2 separate regions of the Homo sapiens genome follow, and region 2 is linked to region 1. Evidence: fine-mapped expression QTL. A gene starts in region 1. The other region holds a variant in brackets. All regions are shown on one strand. Distances are between the middles of the regions. Region 1 holds the start of FAM174A (family with sequence similarity 174 member A). Region 2 has its middle 90 kb from the start of MIR548P.

Evidence for each region. PIP is the estimated chance that this variant, and not a neighbour inherited with it, causes the effect.
Region 2: its variant is fine-mapped to the expression of FAM174A in whole blood (INTERVAL, PIP 0.97).

The regions. Positions count from the first base shown.
Region 1 is chr5:100,529,517-100,541,135 of GRCh38, reverse strand. It overlaps FAM174A (family with sequence similarity 174 member A), which reads right to left and starts at 5,762. Exons shown (of 3, transcript NM_198507.3): 1 at 5,172-5,762. The coding sequence starts at 5,605. It overlaps FAM174A-DT (FAM174A divergent transcript), which reads left to right and starts at 5,893. Exons shown (of 5, transcript NR_172939.1): 1 at 5,893-5,975; 2 at 6,984-7,056. RefSeq lists an enhancer at 5,504-5,803.
Region 2 is chr5:100,721,010-100,732,628 of GRCh38, reverse strand. No RefSeq gene overlaps it. Among named protein-coding and RNA genes, the nearest start is that of MIR548P, 90 kb to the left of the region's middle. RefSeq lists an enhancer at 9,511-10,154. The variant T/CATGT (reference allele first, on the strand shown) is at 6,205.

The DNA of each region.
Region 1 (11,619 bases):
TCATTCAAATTTATCAGAAACAGATTTGTGTGGGCTTAAAGGTGGCCCATATGATAACTTGTCAAACTACTTTACATAGTCCACATTCAGCATTGTCCTACAAATCTCCTGAGCCAGGGTGTCATACAAGCAAATGGCTATTGATGTGGTGAAGCAAAGATCTCCTCAGCTCTTGAGATCACTAGGCAGTGTCTAAGGTGGATAGTATCAGGGCAGGTAGTCTCATACATTTACCCCGTATAGATATCAATGTCTATATGTGGCATTACATGAGCAAGCATTGCTCTGGCCTCAACGCCCCCAACAAACTAGTACATCTCCACTTTTACCTCCCAGAACTGCACACATAACAAATATCACTTAAAAACAGAGCATTCTATTATCACTTCACTTATGATATGATAATCATATCAGGGATTATGATCCCTGACATATCAGTTATGTCATCATCTTGGTATTTTGGCACTTGACCACATAGCAAACTAACTTGACACTTTAAAATATTTTAGGTGTATGAGTAAACATTTTGTGAAGGGAAGTTTCACCTTTGCAAAAAAATATTCATTACTTGCGAACTAGTACTTGTTAAATACATTTCCAAGTTTCTGGGTCTCTTTATATAGAAAACATTTGATATACACTGACTAGCTAAATAAATAATGGCAAACCAGGACAATTTACACATGTTAGGAAAACTCCACTTTCCAAGGAGATATGAACAATTATAATGGAAGTTCCATGAATGCAGGGACTTTCCTTGTGCACTACTAACCCTCATCACAGAGCTTAGTAATGGCACCCAATAGGTGGTAAATAATATTTACTGAATTAGTGACAGTCACTAAATACATAAATGGTTAAATAGTCAAAAGTACTCCTGGTTTTGCTTAAATTAAGTGATTTCTATGGATGTTTTATAATTTTGTAAATAGGGCTGGTACCACAAGACTTCTAGGAGAAAAAGAAAACAACTCATATTCTTAAGTAACCAGACAAAAGAGAAATGGTGATTAAAGTCACATGCATAAATCATTAGTGACTTGCTCCACTAAGGTGGAAATATGTGTGACCATATTAACAGACGTTTCTTTAAAATATTACCATTCCCTGACTATGTGTAGTAAATCAGGAAAATCTTTGGATGAGGGAAGGAATGCAGGGAGTTGAGGTAGGAAACAAAATTATTTCACCTTGGCACAAATATGATGATCAATAAATGTTAACTCACTTTTCAAAAAGGTAAAATTTGGAGGTTTAACATCCAACAAAATCATGTGTTTTAAACAGAAAGGCACTGGGCATATACTATCCACTTTATTTTTCTCCATAAATAAGCTAGCCATCTTTATGTGCAATATCGCTTTAAATTGGTTACTTTAAATGATCACAGGAAGCAGCATGATGGTTGAACATGTTAGGTAAGTTCCAGCAGAGCTGGGTTTGGGCAGGTCCTGTATGTGCACGCTTGGGCAAGTTATTTAAACTTGCTCAGCCTAAATTTCCTCAGTAAGAATGATATTACCTACTTTGAAGGTTTTTGCAAGAATTTCAAAATGCACATAAAGTATGCGGTATTATATCTGACACATAAATTATCAATTAACTATCAGCTATTAGGATGATAAGTAAAAGCTCAAAAATAATCTTTCAGTTACAAAGTATGGTTCTTTGAAAAAACCTAACGTTGTGTCTTAGCGTATAGGGTTGGGTAAGCATTCAAATTAAATTAATATTCTTTATTTCCTATATAATATGTATTAATAGGATCTGCATTTTAATGCCTTTTCATAGCATCCTTTATGTACTTATCTATGTGATTATTTGGTTAATGCCCCTCTGCTCCTCTAGTATATAAGTGTTATAGAAGCAGAAATGTTTGTTTTGCTCAAAACTGTATCCCCAGTGCCCAGTACTGGTCAGTTGAATAAATATTGACTGCTTAAATAAAGGCTATCATAATAAATTTCATGCTCATCTCCACTATATGAGCATGAGCACCATATTTTCTTGAAATTGGAAGAGACTTGCTAAAGAGCATAGAGATTTTTTTTAAAAAAAGTAGAGGGTTAAACTTTTAAGCATCGATTTCCTTCCAATATACCAAATTGAATAAAAAACGAAAAACCAACGACATGGCATGAAAAAGGAAATAATTCCCTGCTTTTAAGGCAAGAATCATTATTCAGCTATGACAAAAATTGCTTTATATAATTACCATACGTGCTAAAACCAACAACCATCTACAGTGATTTCCCCCCACCCCCGCTCCCTGGCCTTATACATTTTACTGTGGAGAGAATGTCCTACTGAGAGGAAGGAAATAAAAGTATTAATTGAGATCTTCGCAGTTCTTTGTTCCGTCAGTAAACAGCAATTATCCTTAAATTTCCAAATCCTTACCACCTACCTGTTCAGCAATATAATACATGAAGAGTGCTCATCCATTAGGCAACTGCTTATTCAGTGCCCATCATATATTGCACATGATGTTTAGCACTGAGGATATAGGGGAGAATAAGACAGAAAAGTCTCTTTTCATAGAGATTAAGTGTTCATTTTAGGCAATCTACTTTGTCCCTACCGTGTTCCTTGCATATATATATATACACTTACATATATATATATATGTTTTGTATTTCTACAGTGAGAACCTGACTGTTCTTTGGAATGTTTCCAGACTCAAAAAGGAAGTTATTATTACCTACATATTCATTATAAATGAATTAGATAAAAACAAAACTATTTGAAAGTCTCATGTAGTTCAATGTAATAAAATTTTACAAGTAAAATATTTTCTGCATCACCTCAAATCAGTTAAGAAAATAATGATTTTGGCCCATTCTTCTCCCTTGGCACAAATAACTAATTTCAGTGCACTGTCACACATAGTTTGAAAATGGGAGCCAAAATGAGCATTCACCAAGATAATGAAGAAAACCATAATCTGGAAGCAAAAAGTATGAGTTCGGAACACTGCCCAGACATTGTTAGCATCATTCAAGCTTTGGATGCCAGGCAGCCAACTAAATGTAGGACTTGGACTGCATGAATATGTTAGATGCTGGTTAAAGAATGCACTTTTTATTAGCCATAGTTCAGAATTTGGCTGTTAACACACATCATGTTACCAAGTCATCCAATAGGATCATATTGGAAGGACTGTATCTGTCCAAGTTTTACAACATTAATGACAGAAAATCAATGGTAATAAATATGTGTATTTAAAATAATTAAAAAGGTGGAAGCAAAAGGAAAAAAACAAGGAAGGAATATTCCCCCCAAATTATCATTATACTTATCATTTTTATGTATAAGAGATACAACATTCAAGGGGCCATGCATTTTTATAGGAACTATGTACAGACAGCAGTAAATAACAGTTATATAGTGAGGAAAATAATTTGTTTCAATATTCTTTTAATCTTTCTTTATATTAAGAAGAAAGTCTCAGTTTGGTGGTAATATGCTTTTAACACTTAGAGTGTGAGTGCAGATTTGCTAGCCTTTGTGAACCAACAATATCTAGCTCAAATAATATTTCTTACAGCTGTGGTTCTCAAATATTGCTTACGCCTGCTGTTTTGGATTTCTTTACATTCTTAAAATTGTTCAGGAACCCAAAATAACTTATATTTATGTGAATTACACATATCAACTTTACCATATTAATTAAACTTGAGAAAACCTATACTTATCAACTGATTTAAAATAATAGTAAACACATTACAAGTTAACATAACTTTTATGAAAAACAACTATATTTTCAAAAAAGAAAAAAACGTAAAAAGAATGACATTTAGATTCTTATTTCCAATTCCCTTTAATATCTGGCTTAAGGTGATAGGAGTAGATAAAAAATAGAAACAAAAAATAGGAAATGGATAGATTTTTATATTTACTTCTGCATTAAATCCTTTGCAATGTGTTGTTTGGTTGAAGCATACAAAGTAATTCCATCTTCGCACAGATATAAACTTGGAATGGAAAGAAACATTTTAATAGCCTTTTTATATATGAGTGGTTATTCCTTTATGATACTACTACACCAAAACTTGACAAGCAGTTTCTTAAAGATTAGTTGCAATGTGGAATCTGAAACAATATCAATGAACTACTTGTACCCTATAAGCCTGTAACAGAATGTATTATTTTGAAAATAGTTTTAATACTGTAGATGCCCTGAAGAGGTCTAAGTGAAACTCCCACCTGTGTGGTTCCCTGGCCCACATGTCAAGAACCACTGGCTTACACTATTTTTTAACTAGCCAAGTGATGTTGGTTTTCCATTCATGATAATAACGACTTGTTTAAAAGGAAACTTTTGCTTTAAATAATCAGTTTAAAGAAATATGTTAAATTACAATACAGAGGGTATTTATGGGAAAAACGTGAATTTTGAAAACAATAAACAAACATAAGCTGCAAACCTACCCTCTACACTTATTTTATAATGAAATAAACTGCTAGACAGCTTTCCCTCACCTTATCTCTTTGCTGGCTTCTCCTAATGGTGAGGTCTTGGCTCTGTATGTCAACTCTTCAGGAAGGTGATTCTCTGCCACTTAGGTGGCAGATTAAAGGGCAATACTAGGAAACACTGATAGTAAGGAAGAACTTTTCTTCTCCTGAATTTTATAAAAATAAAATATCCATAAGGCACCTCTATATTACTATTAATCCACTCAAATATATATTGATTTCCTATTAAGTGGCAGCATTGTACAAATAATTTGTAAGACTCACAAACCTACTAAATAGATATCCTGTCTTTAAAGAGTTTGCATTCTGATTGGCAAAATTTTGACCAGTTAGGTATACAAAAATTTAGACTAGAAAGGTAGAAGTATTACAAGACAGAGTAGTCAAAATTCTAGGGAATAAAGATTATCCTCACTTCAGAGAAAGGGTGCCCTTTGAGGCTGACGTGGGTTGTAGGTCAGATGAAGAGATTTGGAGGTAGGGCACTCATTTATAAACAAAAGGCAGCAATTAGTTATAGGTTTAAATTGCTCCAAAGGTAACAGGCCTTTAAGAAAGTCAATATCATATTCTTAAGCAGGAGTCCCTGATGCTGGGGAAGGGGGAAAGGGTCACAGAAGTCAGCCTTGCTGGAGATCACCGGCCTGCGTATCTCAGGCCCACGGGGGTGCCCCACCGAGGCTTTGCCTCACCTGACCGTCCTGACCACGAAGTACACCAGCACCGCGCCGCTCACCACCATCAACACGGTCAGGGCCCGCTGGGTCATGGGCTTGTCGCCAGGGTTGGGGCTCACAGCAAGGCCGCCACCCACCGAGCCTTCCCCGGCCTTCCCTCCGTGATCGTCCGTCTCAAGCCCGGCCACAGGGTTGCTGCCATTGCCTCCCTCGGAGCCCCGCGGCCCCGCAGCTTCAGCCAGACCACGGCCCGGCTGCTGGGCAGGGGTAGGGCCCGGTGGCAGCGGCGGTAATGTCCGTGGTCTAGGGTCAGGAGGCCCAAGACCTGGCGCGGCCTCGGCTGCCTGCAGCAGGACTGCCAGGGGCCCGCTTAGTTCAGGCAGCAACAGCAGGAGGAGGACGGAAGCCAAGAGGTGGCTGAGACAGCAGCAGCACTGCGAGGCCTTCATCGTTCCCGGACCGCTCTCTCACCACCCGGGAGCCGCCAGGCCCGCCACGCTGGCTCCAAGAGGGACCATAGGCGCGGTGGAGAATGAAGCAGAGGTGACCAAACGCCAGGGAGAGGCCCGGTCGTGGCAGGTGGCAGAAGCTACAGCAGTGGCAGCTGCCCGGAGAACCGGAAGTTCGTACATCTCAGCGGCCACTGCTGCTAAGGACGCCTTCGGTTGCTAACTTGTAGGGGCGGATGCACTTGGTGACGTCAGAGGCCTAGCGCCCAGTGCGCACGCGCACTTGTGTAAAAAGCGAGGACGTGACCGTTTTGGAAGCATTGTTCTTTTCACTGTTAGTGAGGAGCGGTCAAGGATGCGTATTAAGAAAGTAAGTAGACAAAAAGAGATTGTGTAAAATGTACAGCAACTCTCTCATGCAGGAACCCTGAGAGATTGGAAACTCATAATCTGAATTCATTGGTGTCAAACTGCAATAACACATTTAATCTGTAAGCCAGAAGGGCTTAGTTTTCCTTAGCTTCATTACAAGCTTTAAGCAGGCTTTTTTTCCTGCCTATGGGTCCCTGACCTCCCTTTCTAAAGAGCATTTGCTTGTAATGAGTTCATGTCCTTTGTAGGCACATGGATGAAGCTGGAAACCATCATTCTGAGCAAACTATTAGAAGGACAGAAAACCAAACACTGCATGTTCTCACTCATAGGTGGGAATTGAACAATGAGAACACTTGGACACGGGATGGGGAACATCACACACCGGGGCCTGTCGTGGGGTAGGGGGGAGGGATAGCATTAGGGGATATACCTAATGTAAATGACGAGTTAATGGGTGCAGCACAGCAACATGGCACATGTATACATATGTAACAAACCTGCACGTTGTGCACATATACCCTAGAACTTAAAGTATATTAAAAAAAATTACTTTAGAAAACTTTACCATTGTAAGTTATTTCTCTTCCCTTTTCAGATGTAAATATTTTTTAAAGCTTCTGGCCAGTTATATAATTGAAAACTATCTCAAGGGTATGGAAAGCCATCATGCCTTTGAAATATAATCAGCAAGGAAGGTAGTGGGCCATCTCTTATTTTGTGTGAGAGGAAAGGAACCTAACTGTTGTAGGCTTCTCGCTTCAAGTTGTAAAACCACCTCCTGTCATGGAGGAGAAAATTTACTTTTCCTTTGGGTAAAGTCAATCAGCAAACTCAGGTGGCCGGTGATCTTCCCAAAATAGCTCTTAATAACTCTCCACTCCTTTTTTTCTTTTAGAGGAGTTGAGATTAGAAGAGTTTTATCCCCTTTCCCAACAGCAGTAGTCTTCAATAATGTCTTCCTTGCCTGTTTGACTTCAGTAATATGGAACTTCAATTTGTGCAGATAACTAGAAGTGGCCGCATGATGTACCTCTCACCAATGAGATGCCTGTCAAGGGTATACGTGGGTCTTTTGAGTAAGTTATTGTTTTCATTGCTAAAAGAGAGACAGATACAGGTAGATATATACAGAGAGAGAGCCAGAAACACACACACATGCATACACACACCTACCTCTCTCATTATTCCTTTCCCCCTTTCACTTGCCTGCCCTCTCTGCACAGAAAGTTCTGGCCCTAACCTTGAAAAGAATATGACCCAGCTAGTCCTCTGATCCTAGTAGACTGTGGGATATCTGGCGTAAACTATGACTAAACCTATAGCCTGGCACCAAATGCAGCCAAGGTTAGCTTAAGTTAGTCAACCCCAGCTTGACCAAAGAAGTGAAAAATAAATGCTTATTTGCTGTATGCCACTGATATTTCTATGGTTATTGATTATGCCACATTATTCTAGCAATAGTTGATTAAGAAGCTAGAATCAAATCATGGTATTAATTAGGAGAATATAATAATGTGGCAGTAACCTGATACAAATTTCTCATTCTGAGATTTTTTCCCCTTATTTATGTATTTTTTTTTTATATCCTGTGCTTGGTACAACTTGTTTGCAAGCCAATTGATAACAAGTAAATGAACAAGTATATTAAAATTAAGAGAAAAATTCATAAACAACTAATTTTACTTAGTTTGAAAGATTGTATTTCACATAGATATTTGTGCTCAAAATTGTAACTTTCTATTGCACAAACAAAACACAGTATCTTCTCCTAGGAAAATTTTTGTTCATTCCCATGACAGATTTCAAGATGTCATTATATAATGATGTTTTACAAACAATATGGTATTCTAAAAAGAGCACAGTAACTTCCAGGTATGTTGCCTGCTTAAGATCACTTTTGTTGAGAATTGAGTATCTCTGAAAAATCTGATTTTGTTTTTGTTGTTGTTGTTTAGTTAGTTGGTTGCTATATCAGGAGAGATCTGTACTTAAAAAGTTTATCCTGGCAGTAATATAGCCATTTTAAGTGAAGGTAGAAAGTGCTGGGCACCAAGCAGGTTAGTATATAGTCCTAGGGCTATAGAGGCCTGTAGGATTGGATTAATGGGAAAAAAGTTAGGGAAATGGACAGGATATGACAATATCTGGATGCAGGTAGTAAGGGAAAGGAAAGAGATTCTTAAATTTCAGTGTACATGAAAATCACTCTGAGAGCTTGTTAAAAATGCATATATAGTCCATGTCTCCACTTCCAAAAATTCTGTCCAGAATTTCTAAAATAGTGATCTAGAATCTCCAATTTTAACAAATTCCCTTTCTTATTCTGTTTTGGGTAATTGAGAGCTGCATTTTGAGAAACATTAGAACATAGCTTTCCTAATCATTTGGAAACAATAGTTTGATTCTAAGATTTCAGAATCATTTAGCTCTTTGCATGTCCCAGTTATTGCCAAGGACTGCTGCAGATGGGAATTTGGGGTAACAAATGATACCAAGGTTTTATGCCTGCACATCTGGGAGAATGATAATGCCATTAATCAAGATGAAGAACATGACAAAATCAGATTTTGGAAGGAAGGAAAGATAATGCACATTTTCTTTTTTGTCATTCCTTTTTTTTTTTTTGACAAGTTGAATGTTGGACTTTTTTGGGAGGAGGCATTAAATACTAACTCTATTCTATTTTTTGGGAGAGGCATTAAATACTAACTCTATTCCATTTATAATGTGGAATGAAGTTCTGAGTAAGGAAGATGGGAAATCAAAAGGGCATTTTATTACTGATAAATGCCATTTGGAAGCTGACACTAGGGTGTACCACAAATGGGCTTCTTTACACTGAAACTCAACATTAAGATGCCTAATCCTTGCAGTTCTGCCAGCCAGAAGCAACTGCCTTACCCTGCTCCCTGAAAGCAGCTAAGAGACAAACTATCCTGTCCACTCTACCTAAAACAGCAGTTTACAAAATTTGTAGTATAGATCTTGTATGTTTCATTTATAACACACACTTAAGATTCCAAAATTAGTGTGATTATTTTTACCACTTGAACCTAAGTTCTATGAAGCAAGGGTCAATCTCATTTATTCACTACTCAATACTCAGAATTTAGCACAGTGCTAAAAAAGAGTATATCAAAAAAGACAAAGGTGGGCATTACATGATGGTGAAGAGTTTAACAGGAAGAGCTAACTATGCTAAATATATAAGCACCCAATACAGGAGGAGCTAGATTCACAAAGCAAGTTCTTAGAGACCTACATAGAGACTTAGAATCCCACACAATAGTAGTGGGAGAATTTAACACCCCATTGACAATATTAGACAGATCATCAAGACGTAAAATTAACAAAGATATTAAGGACCTGAACTCAGCTCTGAATCAAGTGGACCTGATAGATATCTACAGAGTTCTCCATCCCAAAACAACAGAGCATAACATTCTTCTCATTGCCACATGACACTTACTCTAAAATTGATCAAATAATCAGAAGTAAAACACTCCTCAGCAAATGCAAAGGAACTTAAATCATAACAGTCTATCAGACCACAGTGCATTCAAGTTAGAACTCAAGATTAAGAAATTCGCTCAAAACCACACAACTACATGGAAATTAAACAAACTGCTCCTGAATGACTCTTGGGGAAATAGTGAAATTAAAGCTACAATCAAGAAGTTATTTGAAACTAAAGAGAACAAAGAGACAACATACCAGAATCTCTGGGACTCAGCTAAAGCAGTGTTAAGAGGGAACTTCATAGCACTAAATGAACACATCAGAAAGCTAGAAAGATCTCAAGTTAACAACCTAACATCTCAACTAAAAGTACTAGGAGCCAGGAGCAAACAAATCCTAAAGCTAGCAGAAGACAAGAAATGACCAAGATTAGAGCTGAACTGAAGGAGATAGAGACACAAAATGCTCTTAAACAAATCAATGAATCCAGGAACTAGTTTTCTGAAGAAAGTAATAAAATAGACTGCTGACTAGACTAATAAAGAAGAAAAGAGAGAAGTATCAAAAAAACACAACCAGAAATGATAAGGGGGTATTACTACTGACCCCACAGAAATACAACCATCAGAGAATACTATAAACACGTCTATGCACATAAACTAGAAAATCTCATAGAAATGGATAAATTTCTAGACACATACACCCTCCCAAGACTGAACCAGGAAGAACTTGAATCTCAGAATAGACCAATACTGCACAGCAAAAAGCTTATCCACCACGATCCAGTTGGCTTCACCTCTGGAATGCAAGGTTGGTTCAACATATGCAAATCAATAAATGTAATTAATCACATAAATAGAACTAAAAGCAAAAACCACATGATTATCTCAATAGATGTAGAAAGGCCTTTAATAAAATTCAACATCCCGTTATGTTAAAAATGCTCAATAAACTAGATATTGAAGGAAGATGCCTTGAAATAATAATAGCCATTTATAACAAACCCACAGCCAATATCATACCGAATGGATAAAAGCTGGAAGCATTCCCCTCGAAAGCCAGCACAAGACAAGGATGCCTTCTGTCACCACTCCTATTTAACAGAGTATTGGAAGTTCTGGCCAGGGCAATTAGGCAGGAGAAAGAAATAAAGGGTATTCAAATAGGAAGAGAGGAAGTCAAATTACCTTTGTTTGAAGATCACATGATTCTGTATCTAGAAAGCTCTATAGTCTCAGCGCCAAAGCTTCTTACACTGATAAGCAACTTCAGAAAAGTCTCAGGATACAAAATCAATGCAAAAATTGTTAGCATTTCTATACACTAACAGCCAAATCAGGAATGAACTCCATTCACAATTGCCACAAAAAGAATAAAATACCTAAGAATACAGCTAACAAGGGAAGGGAAGGACTTCTTCAAGGAGAAACAAAACCACTGCTCAAATCAGGGAGGACACAAACAAATGGAAAAATATCCCATGCTTATGGATAAGAAGAATCAATATTGCAAAAATGGCCATACTGCCAAAAGTAATGTATAGATTCAATACTAATTCTATTAAACTACCACTGACATTCTTCACAGAATGTAAAAAAAAAAAAAACTATTTTAAAATTCATATGGAATGAAAAGGAACCTGAATAGCCAAAACAATCCTAAGCAAAAAGAACAAAGCTGGATGCATCACACTGCCCAACTTCAAACTATACTACAAGGCTACAGTAACCAAATCAGAGTAGTACTGGTATAAAAACAGATGCATAGAGCAATGGAACAGAATAGAGAACTCAGAAATAAGGTCACATACCTATAACCATTTGATCTTTGGCAAACCTGACAAAAACAAGCAATGGGGAAAAAATGTCCTATTTAATAAATGGTGCTGGGAGAAGTGGCTAGCCATATGCAGACAATTGAAACTGGACCCCTTCCTTACACCATGTACAAAAATTAACTCAAGATTGATTAAAGACTTAAATGTAAAACAATACTATGCAAACCTGAGAAGAAAATCTAGGCAGTACCAGTAAGGACAAAGGCACGGGCAAACATTTCATGATGAAAATGCCAAAAGCAATTGCAACCAAAGCAAAAATTGAGAAATGAGATCTAATTAAGCTAAAGAGCTTCTGCACAGCAAAAGAAACTATCATCAGAGTGAACAGACAGCCTATAGA
Region 2 (11,619 bases), 190 kb before region 1:
CCAAACTGTCTTGTTTATTGTACTTTTATAATAATTCCTAAAATCAGTCAGTGTTCATCTTCCAATTTAACTCCTCTTTTTCAAACTCTCTTTTGGTAATTGTAGGTTCTTTGAATTTTTGTATAAATTTTAGGACAATCTTATAAATTTATACTAGAAAACTGCTGCTTTTTTCACTTGGGATTGTGTATTGAATCTATGGTTCTATTTGAGAGCAACTGATAGCTTAACAATACTGAATCTTCAACCTGTGAACATAATGTACTTCTCCATTTATGCAGGTCTTTAACATTTTTTCTCAGCTATTTTTGATGGTTTTCAACATGTAGTCATCTTACATCTTTAAAAATATGTATTTTACATATTTCATAATTTTCATGTTACTTTAAATGGTATTTTTAACATTTCAACTTCTATTGATAGTGTGTAGAAATACAGTTATTTTGTATTTAAGAGTATTGTGATATTCTGTTATTTTTGCTTGTTTGTGTGTTCAGCACCTTCGTGCATTTTTAACTACTTCCACAGAAACCGGTGATTTTCTACTCGACAGAGATTGAGAATTTTAGCAGAAATAGAAGAGAGGTACTCCTCCATCAAAGTGAAACCACAAAAATCTTGTTTACCTTGCACTTTCTGTTTAAACACGGTTGGACCACATAGCAGCCAGATCAGTTAGAAAGGCTGCTCTTTCTTCTTCCTGTCCCTGTCTTCTCCCATCAGTGCACAAATTCTAAACCACGGGACTACTTGACTCTCCATTCTAGGGTGGCTGTGCTAGGAGTCCGTGTTCCTATAATGGATACATTCATGTACTTGGAGAATATGATCCCATGTCTATTTCCTTTAGAGAGAAGCTCTGAAAATATATTTGATAGTGAATGATCTGGAAGATTATTCCAATTTACCCTTCCAACATCTGTTTTCATGATCTCCTTTTTCTGCACTGTTTCTTCTACACTATATATTCTGCCACAGAGTGGCAAGGATAATTCAACTTGAGTATATTTTAGGTTAAAAAAGTGTTATCGACTTTTTCATAAATTATAATATACCTCTATGTATCTTTTTCCCCTTTGCATTTTTATTTAGGTTATCATGTTCTATAAATTTTATCAAATAATACAAATTAGATGAGAATGTGAAGATAGTTGATTTAAACGAGGATATCTAATTTATATGAGGATAATAGTTAATATACTATTTTTTGGTAAGGTATTAATTTGTGTTCTTAAGTTGAACTTTTATAGTTCACTATCCTATTTAAATGACAAGAGCACAAGAATTAAAGCAAGTAAATATTGAAATTCTAAAAACCCTTCCTGAAAATTCCAAGTTTTATCAAGGAGCTAATTTTTACAAAAGACTAATTTTGTACATATTTTAATTTTCTAAAATATGACGTGCCACTTCTTGTGTGTGTTTCAGTGTTTGTGAGTGTTACATATTCTGTTTCCTGAAAATAACTTGGTTTATTCAGCAAAATACAGTTCTGTTTTTTGAAGCAAACTAGATTCCTTCTTTTCAAAGTTTGATAGAAAGCATAGATATTTGCCTCTGAAGTTTTCCATAATTAACTTGGTTTGGAAGATATGTTTGAAAGTATTGATTAAATTATGTCCTTTTTCCACCTTTGTTTTTTGTTTTTTGTTTTTTGTTTTTTTTGAGACAGAGTCTCTCTCTGTCGCCCAGGCTGGAGTGCAGTGGGGCGATCTCGGCTCACTGCAACCTCCGCCTCCCGGGTTCATGCCATTCTCCTGCCTCAGCCTCCCAAGTAGCTGGGACTACAGGTGCCCCCCACCACGCCCGGCTAATTTTTTGTATTTTCATTAGAGACGGGGTTTCACCGTTCCTTTTCCTACATTTAAGCTCTCAGATAATTGAGAATATGCAATAACAAGGAAATGAGATACTAGACCAATTTGAACTAATATAAACAAATTTCCAATATTCATCTCAAGCATAAAAATACTTATGGGATCATGTTGGGCTTAGTTCTTAATTAGATCTTGAAGCTCATTTTCTTAACCACATTCCAACAACTTTGAATGACATTTTAAATACTCTGTTGCCTTGGTGTTTTATATCAATTAGCATTGTTGTTTTCTAGCTTACTTATTATTTTTTACTTATGAATTTATTAGTCTAATGACTTCATATGTATTATATGCTCATATTACCAGATGAATTTTGAGTAAGTTTTTAAATTATTTTCATTCTTCTTTAGTTAAATGGTCTCTACAGAAAACAAGATAAATTTGCATATATTCCATATGCATGCTGAATTGAGAATGCAGGTTTTTCTTAAGCAATACCCAAGGTAGTTATTTAATACTCAAGCATTTTGGCAATTTCTTTATATGCTGCTGTTGACTTTTACTGGACTAATTTCTCTATAGGCAAAAGTAAATGGCCAGTGTTAACTCAGAAGATTTTACAAGTTTGTAGTTTTACATAATTATACATAAAATAAGTCATTCAAATTTGAAGAAGTATTGAAGTTTTAATAAATTATGTTAAGTCAAGTTTAAAATCAAATGTATGCTGATTTGGGTCCAATAATAGGGATAAAATATTAAAAATTAAAAAAAGAGAAGAAACAACAAAACAGTAGAAAATGGAGAACCTAAGATTAGCAGTTGGAATTTAGATGATGTATTAATTTTTCTGGAAATCCATGTTGTTTTCTTCATTGTGTCACTTACAAACAAATATATCAAATAGTGCTTTATCAAGATAGTATTCATTTTTATATTTCTGCATTAATTAATCAAACATTTATTCAACAACATCTGTGTGCCAGATACTTTGGTAGGTACTGAGCATGCAAAAAGGAGCCAACAATATAATGGGGTAAAAACCTAGATAAGCAACTGACTCCATTCCTGTAGAGTAGTAATACTGTCTGCCTAACTTGTAATGATTCTTTAACTTTTAGCCGTAATATCACTTTTTGTAGACATTGTTCCTTGAGTAATATTCCTTACTTTCAACTGTATTAAGAGACACTACTAGGTATTTCCTCAACATTCTGTTCTTTCTTTATTGTATCACTTACCACACTTTAATGTAAATGCTTGTTTTAAAATCAAACATTCTAAGCTTTGGCAGGACAGATCAAAACTGCCTTGCTCATATTTATACCCCTTGTTCCTATCACAATACTTGGTGCGTGGTGTATGTTTACTATAAGTAGTTGAATGCATGCAAAAGGAAGAGGGAGGGAGAGAAATGCAGAGAGGAGAAACAGGGATAATGAAGGAAAAAGAAGAAAAGGAGTGAGGAAGACAAATCTCACACTGAAAACCTCCATTAAAGTCTGTTTTGGATTAAATTCTCAATTTATTTTCAGATAAGTCAAATTTACAGATAGAATAAACAATAGAAGAAGCTAAAATTCCTAAAAAATATTATTTCCCCTAAATATGCTCTGGCGAGGGTTCTGGAGACAAACATGCACATGAGGTCTCATTCTACTTTCAATCTACCACCAAACTATTTAAACAGTTTGAAGAAAGCTCAGTAACAAAATCATAGATAAAAATGTCTATATTCATGTATCAGTCAAATGTCTACCTAAGCAGACCAAGATGTAGGAAAATTTCAAAATGTTATCTATCTAAACAGACTGTATAAGATACCACTTAGAAAAATCCAAAAGTCATTTTCATGTAACAAATCCAATGTCAGAATTCCAAATAAAATATTTCCAAATGGGTAGGAAATTATATATATATAATTTTTATATATAAAAAATATATAAATTATATATATAATTTTTTACATAAAAATTATATATATTTAATTCTATATATTATATTATTTATATAAAACTGTTAAAATTATATATATAATTGTATATAATATATTATAAATAATATATAAATATATATTATTATATATAAACATATAAATATATATTATTATATATAAACATATAAATATATATTATATATAATATATAAATATAAATATTATATAATAAAAAATTATGTATAATTATATTTAATTTTAGGTTAACTTCACACTATGAAATATATATGTATGTACATACATACATGTATATATGTATATACATATATAAATATTATATATAATATAATATATAATATATAGAATATATTTATATAAAATTTATATATAATTTATATATTTATATAAAATTATATATAAAAGTATATACAATTATATATAATTATATTTAATTTTAAGTTAACTGCGCTATGAAATATATATATACATGTATATGTATTATGTACATAATTTTATATTATATATATAATATTTATATTTATATATGTATACACATATACATGTATATATGTGTATACATATATATTTCAGTGTGAAGTTAACTTAAAATTAAATATAATTACATGTACATATATGTATGTACATATATACATTTTCATGTGCATATATATGTATATACATATATGTACATAATTTTATATTATATATAATACATTATCCTTATATTTATATATGTATGTACATATATACATGTATATATGTACATACATATATATTTCATAGTGCGAAGTTAACTTAAAATTAAATACAATTACATGTAGATATATGTATGTATTTATATACATTTTCATGTGCATATATATGTATATACATGTACGTACATATATACATGTATATATATGTATGTACATATATATATTTCATAGTGCAAAGTTAACTTAAAATTAAAACAGAAGGTTTTATCTTTTCTTTGGTACATTTTCTCTCTGATGCTGTATTTTCAATATTTTTTACAGCTAACATACATTATATTTCTACTTACACAAAATAAAGACAAATGTTAATAAAAATAACAATGTGGAATTGAAATAACCATAAAATCATAAAGCAAAATATTCTCATGTTCATATTTGAATATATACATAGCTATATATGTCCACTGATTGTCTTTGTTAAGAATAACGTAGTATATATTGAATTATGCCCTATTTAATCAAAGAGATTATTTTTCTAAACTGGGCATAGATTTGCCTTGCCCATATATTCTTTGTCTATATCATTTTATAACTTTGCTGCAACATCTTCTGGAAATTATTATTACAGTTAAAAATTGAAATACCTGGGTCAAAAGTTTACATATTTTCCAGGATCTTGAAATATTTTGATACATACTTGCTAGACAGGTTGCCTATTTCATCATTTCTATATTAAAACTGATTATTATAATTCTTAAAATATGTGCTAACTTGATAGTAAATAAATGATGGCTTACATATTCTCACTTGAATTTTATATTTGTTGATAGGATGACTAAATACTCCTTTATGTATTAATTAGAGGATTTTTGTACTATTAGTTTATTTGCATTATTTTATTCATATTATTTATGTATTTTTGTTTCATACTTTGTAAATTACTTGTGTAAAATATTTTTGCAAATCAAAATTAAGCTGTCATCTTTATTCAGCAATATTTAAGCCTATTATATAAAGATATATGGAAATATTAAGTTGATCCAGATAGAGAAGCATTTTGAACCCAACTTGACAAATTAATATGTCTGAGTCATAAATAAACTATCTGGATTGCATTTACATGCTGAACTTTTAATCATTAGTCTAAGCTTAAGCTATATCAATCTATATTCAGCTACCGGAGCTTGGAAAATTGAAATATAAAATTAACAAGGTAGAAGTTTTGCCAATAAATCTGTTATTTTTACTGCAATACAGGGTAACCATTTATAGTACTAAGAAGAGTTGCTTTCAATCTCTAATATGCTTCTTTTGAAATAGCATCATTGTGTTTGTGGCAGTAAATGGTTCAAAGTGCACCTAATACATTCAGAGTTCACCAAATTCTTTGCATTTCCAATCTGACCCACATCATATTTATTGGGCTATAATGACTATGGAACACAACAAATTCAGGATGTTTCTGGAAAGGCAAAACCTCTTCTATTAATAATGCAGCAGTTGAACATTAAAGTACTGTCACTATGCTAGTTTATGATGTGATAAAATTGTTAAAAGTACATTACTATGTAACTACAGAGGTATATTGGGCCATAAGTGTATTTTAAGTACTAAAGAGAAAAAGGAATTAGATAAGGAATAAGATAGCTTTTATAAAGGTTAAAAAAAAGAGGCATATTATGTGCTATCAGACAGGAATGATAGTTTGTGTTTATGTAGTGTGCATTGCTAAATTCTGTGTGTGTGTACATGCATG[T/CATGT]GCCCATATGTGTTTATCTGCACACACATATGTGTGTGCTCATGCAACTATGTGTAAAGGTGGCTTCCAGATTTCTCAGCTTGTAGGCGAAGGTGCTAAAGACATATACAGTGGGTGAAAGGAAGTATGGTGACTGTATGAAGTCAGGGTATGAATATTTCTGAGAATAAAGCAGAGAGTAGAAAAACGTAAGTGTCCATAACTACTGGTAAACCCTGCAAGATGTAGACTAGTTTGTAGCACAGTGCTGATTTCTCTCATAGAAATTATAGATTTAAATAAAAAATTGATTTTGAGAGTATTTGTTTTGTCTGTATTTGTTTTCTATTGCTGTGTTACAAATTACCACATTTGGTGTCTTAAAACAGCACACACTTATTATATAACTGTTTCTGTGCCTCAGGAGTCCAGGCACAGCTTAGCTGGGTTCTCTGCTCAGGGTTTCACAAGGCTGCATTCAGGATCTCTACCAGGCTGCTTTGACATCAATAAGCTTCATTAGGGAAGAATTTGCTTCCACGTTTATTCAGGTTGTTGATAAAATGTATTTCCTTAGCATTGTAAGATTCAGGTGGCTGTTTTCTAGCTGGATTTTGGCTGGGGTGACTCTTAGCTCACAGAAGTCACCTGCAATTCTGTGCCATGTGGCCCTTTCAAGACCAGGAGGAGAATCACTCCAATCTCAAGAAGGGCGCAGTTGCTCATTTAAGGGCATTAATTTGAATAATTAGGCCCACCAAGAATGATCTTTCTTTTGCTTAATCAAAAATCAGCTGATCTCATTGAACTAAAAATCAACCTGAATTTCATCTGCAAAATCTATTTATCTTTGCCCTATATATCACAGGAGTAACATCGTATCATATTCACAGTTTTCACCATACTCCAGAGTGTCATTATACGGGGCATGGGCATATGCCACAAGAAGCTGAATCTTGAGGCTCACTTTACAATTCTGCCTGCCGTGGTGTCCAAGCTATTTTAATAACTGATTATTCCTCCAATTACCAATATTGTCATTTGTTTAGAAAATGTTTCCAATTTTCTTTTATTACATCATTCTAATTCTCTTACTTTTATCTATTCCATTGCTTCATTTCTTGATTTTTTCACTGTGCCAAGACCCTTAAAATTGATAAACTATTACACAGAACTGCTGGCTGCGGCTTAGCCTTCCCCTATAACCCACTGACCACTTCTGTACACCGTACCTTGTAGAGGCAGCATGAAAAAAAGAAAGTAAATACATTTCCTACAGACAGATCTGAGTTTGAATCTTGATTATCTTACTAATTATAAGGTCTTGAGTAAGTGATTTTATATTTTGAGTTGCAGTCTCCATGTCTGTTAAGAGAAATCAGTGTTTACTTTTGTTATAACTAGAAGGAGAAACTATATAATGCATGCATAACACCCAGTAGAATAATTGGCTCATAGAAACTAATCGATAAATGGAAACCCATTCTCTGAGTACAAATATCCTTTAGCACTGGTTCTAGGTCTCACACTGCTCAGGTTTTGTATAAATAATAAATTCTATTTATCAATAACATCTATGTTCTAGACCATGTATTAAGTATATTCTTCACAATTATCTCATTGAATGATGTATTACTTTCCTCTGGTTGCTATATTAAGTTACCACAAACTTGGCTTAAAACACGAAGTTATTGTTTCATAATTCTGGAAGCCAGGAGTCCAATACCAAGGTGTCAGTAGGGCCATACTCCCTCTGAAGGCTTGAAGAGAGAATCCATTCCTGACCTCTTTTATGTTATGGTGGCTCCAGGTGTTGCCTCCCTTGTGGCCACATCACGTCAATCTCTGCCTCCATGGTCACATTATTTGCTCCTCTTCTGCATGACTCTCTTCTGTGTGTCTCTTGTAGGGATACTCATATTAGATTTAAGGCCCACCCAGTTAATCCAGGATAATTTTCTTATCTTAAAATCCTTAAATTAACTTCACATGCAAATACCCCTTTTTCCTAAATAAGATATCATTCACAGGTTCTAGGGATTAAAACAAGAGTATTCTCTTTAACGGACATCATTTAGCCCACTACCAGTAACAATCTAAATTTTAAGTACTACTATTATTTCAATTTTATTGAAGAATTAGCCATGTCTCAGAGATGTTTAAGTACTTTTCCCAAAGTCATAGAGCCAATTAGTGGTATAAGGGTTGGGAGGGGGGCTAGGTATACATTTCTGACTTCAACCTTGTGCCCTGAAACCCCCACTGTGCAGTATGCTCTGGCACAAGGAAGCAAGTCCTAGAACTCTTGGGAAATCATATCTTGGAGGACACATCCATCAGTAAAAAAAGAACATTTTACTCTTTTTCTCCTTACATAAGCTTAGCTTGACTTTCTGAAACTGTCAACATTATTTCTTCTAGTGAAAATTAACCTGAGTGTGGGAGTGAGAGTTGAATTGCTTTAAATTTGAAGATGTCAAAGTGAGGGTCGAGTAGATGCCTATCTTGGTTCTTTAATTAGAAGATCTTAGAGTTCGGTGCTAAGGATTAAAAAGCAGGGTGAATCACTTTACCTTTGTGCTGTGATCTTTGATGCTTTGTTGCTGACCCTTCACTACCACAAATTACAAAGGTCAGAAACTATTTGGAAAAGAAAGTTTGATGTTATGAAGAAGCACGTTGCCTCCCATGCTTCCCCACCATTCCACTTTTGTCTCATTTTTCCAGCTAACCTAGATTCCTTTCATCTACATACTGTATTTTATTGGCAATTATGATAATTGGTTAATATGTCTCAATTTGTACCTATATTTTTTCTAATCAGAATAAATTTCCTTCCTTATAAAACTCTTACCAGATCATCTAATTAGAGTCTTCCCCCAACCTCAGCAACTAGAATTCACTTTTATGTATTTGCACTGCATATGTATTTTTGTGATGACCATAGAATAAATGTACAAGTCACACACTTTAGTAGAAAAGTCTTGGGCTGGGATAACAATTGTTGTCTATGTTCTAGTTTCAGTTCTGCATTAATTAATTGCATGCCCTCATCTGAAGGCCAAGGTGACTTTTTATGCTTTTGCTTTATTTGCAAAACTGAGATAATTACTGTTTCCTGACTCAAGGCATTATTATAAGTATAAAAGAACTTACAAAGTAGATGTCAAAATGCTCAGAAAACAAAAAAGTTGTATGATTTTAACCAAAAAAAGATAAAAGAATACAAAACAATTGAAATAAATAAATTAAAAATCTACAGAATTATTTGGATGTTTTTCTAAGTCAGGAGATTCTCTACAGTTATCATAGTCTATTTACATGCCTTGGCATTCTCTGCTAATGACATTGGGATAATCAAGATTTCAGAAGATTTTTCATGTTGTTAAGTATAAATTTGACTCTACTGAAGATAATTCCTCCTATAATGGCAATTCTGCAAATTCTAAGAAATGCCTTTGGAAACTGATTCTAGCCTCCATTTCCTCTTAGCCCTAATTTGCAGGATTGTTGCCACATTTACTCTCTGTGAAAGCTCATCAGCCAACTCCAGGGAGCTTTAATTCTCAGGCAGTAACATCAATAGATAAGTGGTTGAATAGTAACCAAGTATGCAGCCCCCTTCCAAGAGAAGGTGAAGATATTTGTAGTGTGAATGAAGGCAATTCAAAAGTATTTAAACTCAAATGATTAGTGGAACTGTCCAGGGACCAAAGGGACTTAAGTGGATGTGATAAAGATCCACCTGCTGTTTTTTAGAGAGAGTTCACATTTAAAACACAAAATAATTAAGTGTTTTAATTTTGATCCCCCTAGTGCTTCTCCTTTTAAGAACACAGCAGGGTGGGTGAACATAATTGGCATCATTTGGAAGGTTGAGTGCTAAGGTTGTAGCAAGTTCTCTGTTTGTAGATGAAAAATGACATTTTGGTTTAACATCTTGCTATACTTATCCATACTTTGCTCCTATTCTAATTTTTAAGCAGAAAGATTGTGCCTACCTCAACTTCAAAAAGCAGCCTCAAATCTTCAAAAGCTAGGGTAAACTACGTCTTTCATATGAGAGACTTAACAGTATGTTCACCTGGGAAGAAACCCAGGCAAAAAATGTTTGTGTGTGTGTGTCTGTGTCTGTGTGTGTTCTCTGATATCACTGTAACTCAGACAAGATGTTACACTACCTTTATAGTTTTATTTCACTCTAAAACTCACTCATGTATTATTCAAGGCCTTCTATGGTCCCTTTGATTTCCTAGTTAACTAAATCTTTGAATTAGGCTCACATACCAGGAATAATTGAATAACAAAATAGACCCTTTTTCAGTTGATACAGTAATAATAGAGAAATATGAAAGAAGAAGCTCATCTTAAAAACAGAGTCAGACTTCTTTACCAATGCACTGAAATTTCATTCCAAAATAGTGCCTGTCATGTTGTAATTTGCTTTCTATAAATAGTTGAAGGTTAAATAAATGAACAAGTTTTCTGCATTATTTATTCCTGTCATGTAACACAGCATGGCAGCTTCTGACCCTGCCCTCAGCTATATAGCTTGAAGATAAGATGATAGACATGGAATGGGTTAGATTCAGTGTTTCTGTGAGGATATTTCTATTTGATTTACCAATGTCAAACAAATGTTTTCTTTGTGTTGCAGTTAGAGGTGTGTTGAATTAAGAACCTAAAGACCTTGATTCTATATGGTATTCGAATACTTGACCTATTTATCTCATATACAAAATGGAGATATAAGCCTATAAATCGTTGACATTTTGGCACGGGTGTTTGTTAATGAAAAACAGTATGCAGCCAATACAACTATTATATTTTTTTCTAAACAATAAGATAGGGCTATGTTATTTAAAACAATAGCTAAATATTAATTCACCACATTCATTAATATTTCAACCAGGGACTTTTTTTTTGAAATTTATCATTTTTTTAAAAAATTGATGTATAAATGTATATGTATTTATTATGTACAATATGATGTTTTGAAGTATATATACATTATGGAATGGTGAAATCTAATTAACAAATTAATTACCTCAAATAGTTATCAGTTCTGTGGTGAGAACATTTAGCATTCACTTTCTTAGCATTTTAAAAAATACAATATATCATCATTAACACTGGTTACCATGCTATACAGTAGACCTTGAACTTATTCCTCATATCTAACTATATATATGTATCTTTGACTAACATTCCCCAACTCCTTATCCCCCACTAACCACTCCAACCTCTGGTAAACCATTCTACCACCTTTTTACTCTCTATTTCTATGAGATTGATGTTTTTAGATTCCAAAGCCAGGAACTATTCTTCAATCAGTTCACCATTCCACATAATTATTCTTATATTTTTATTTATTTATCTAATATAATGCATTGTTGTAACCCAACTATAATTGATTAGTAAATAAATAAATACAAC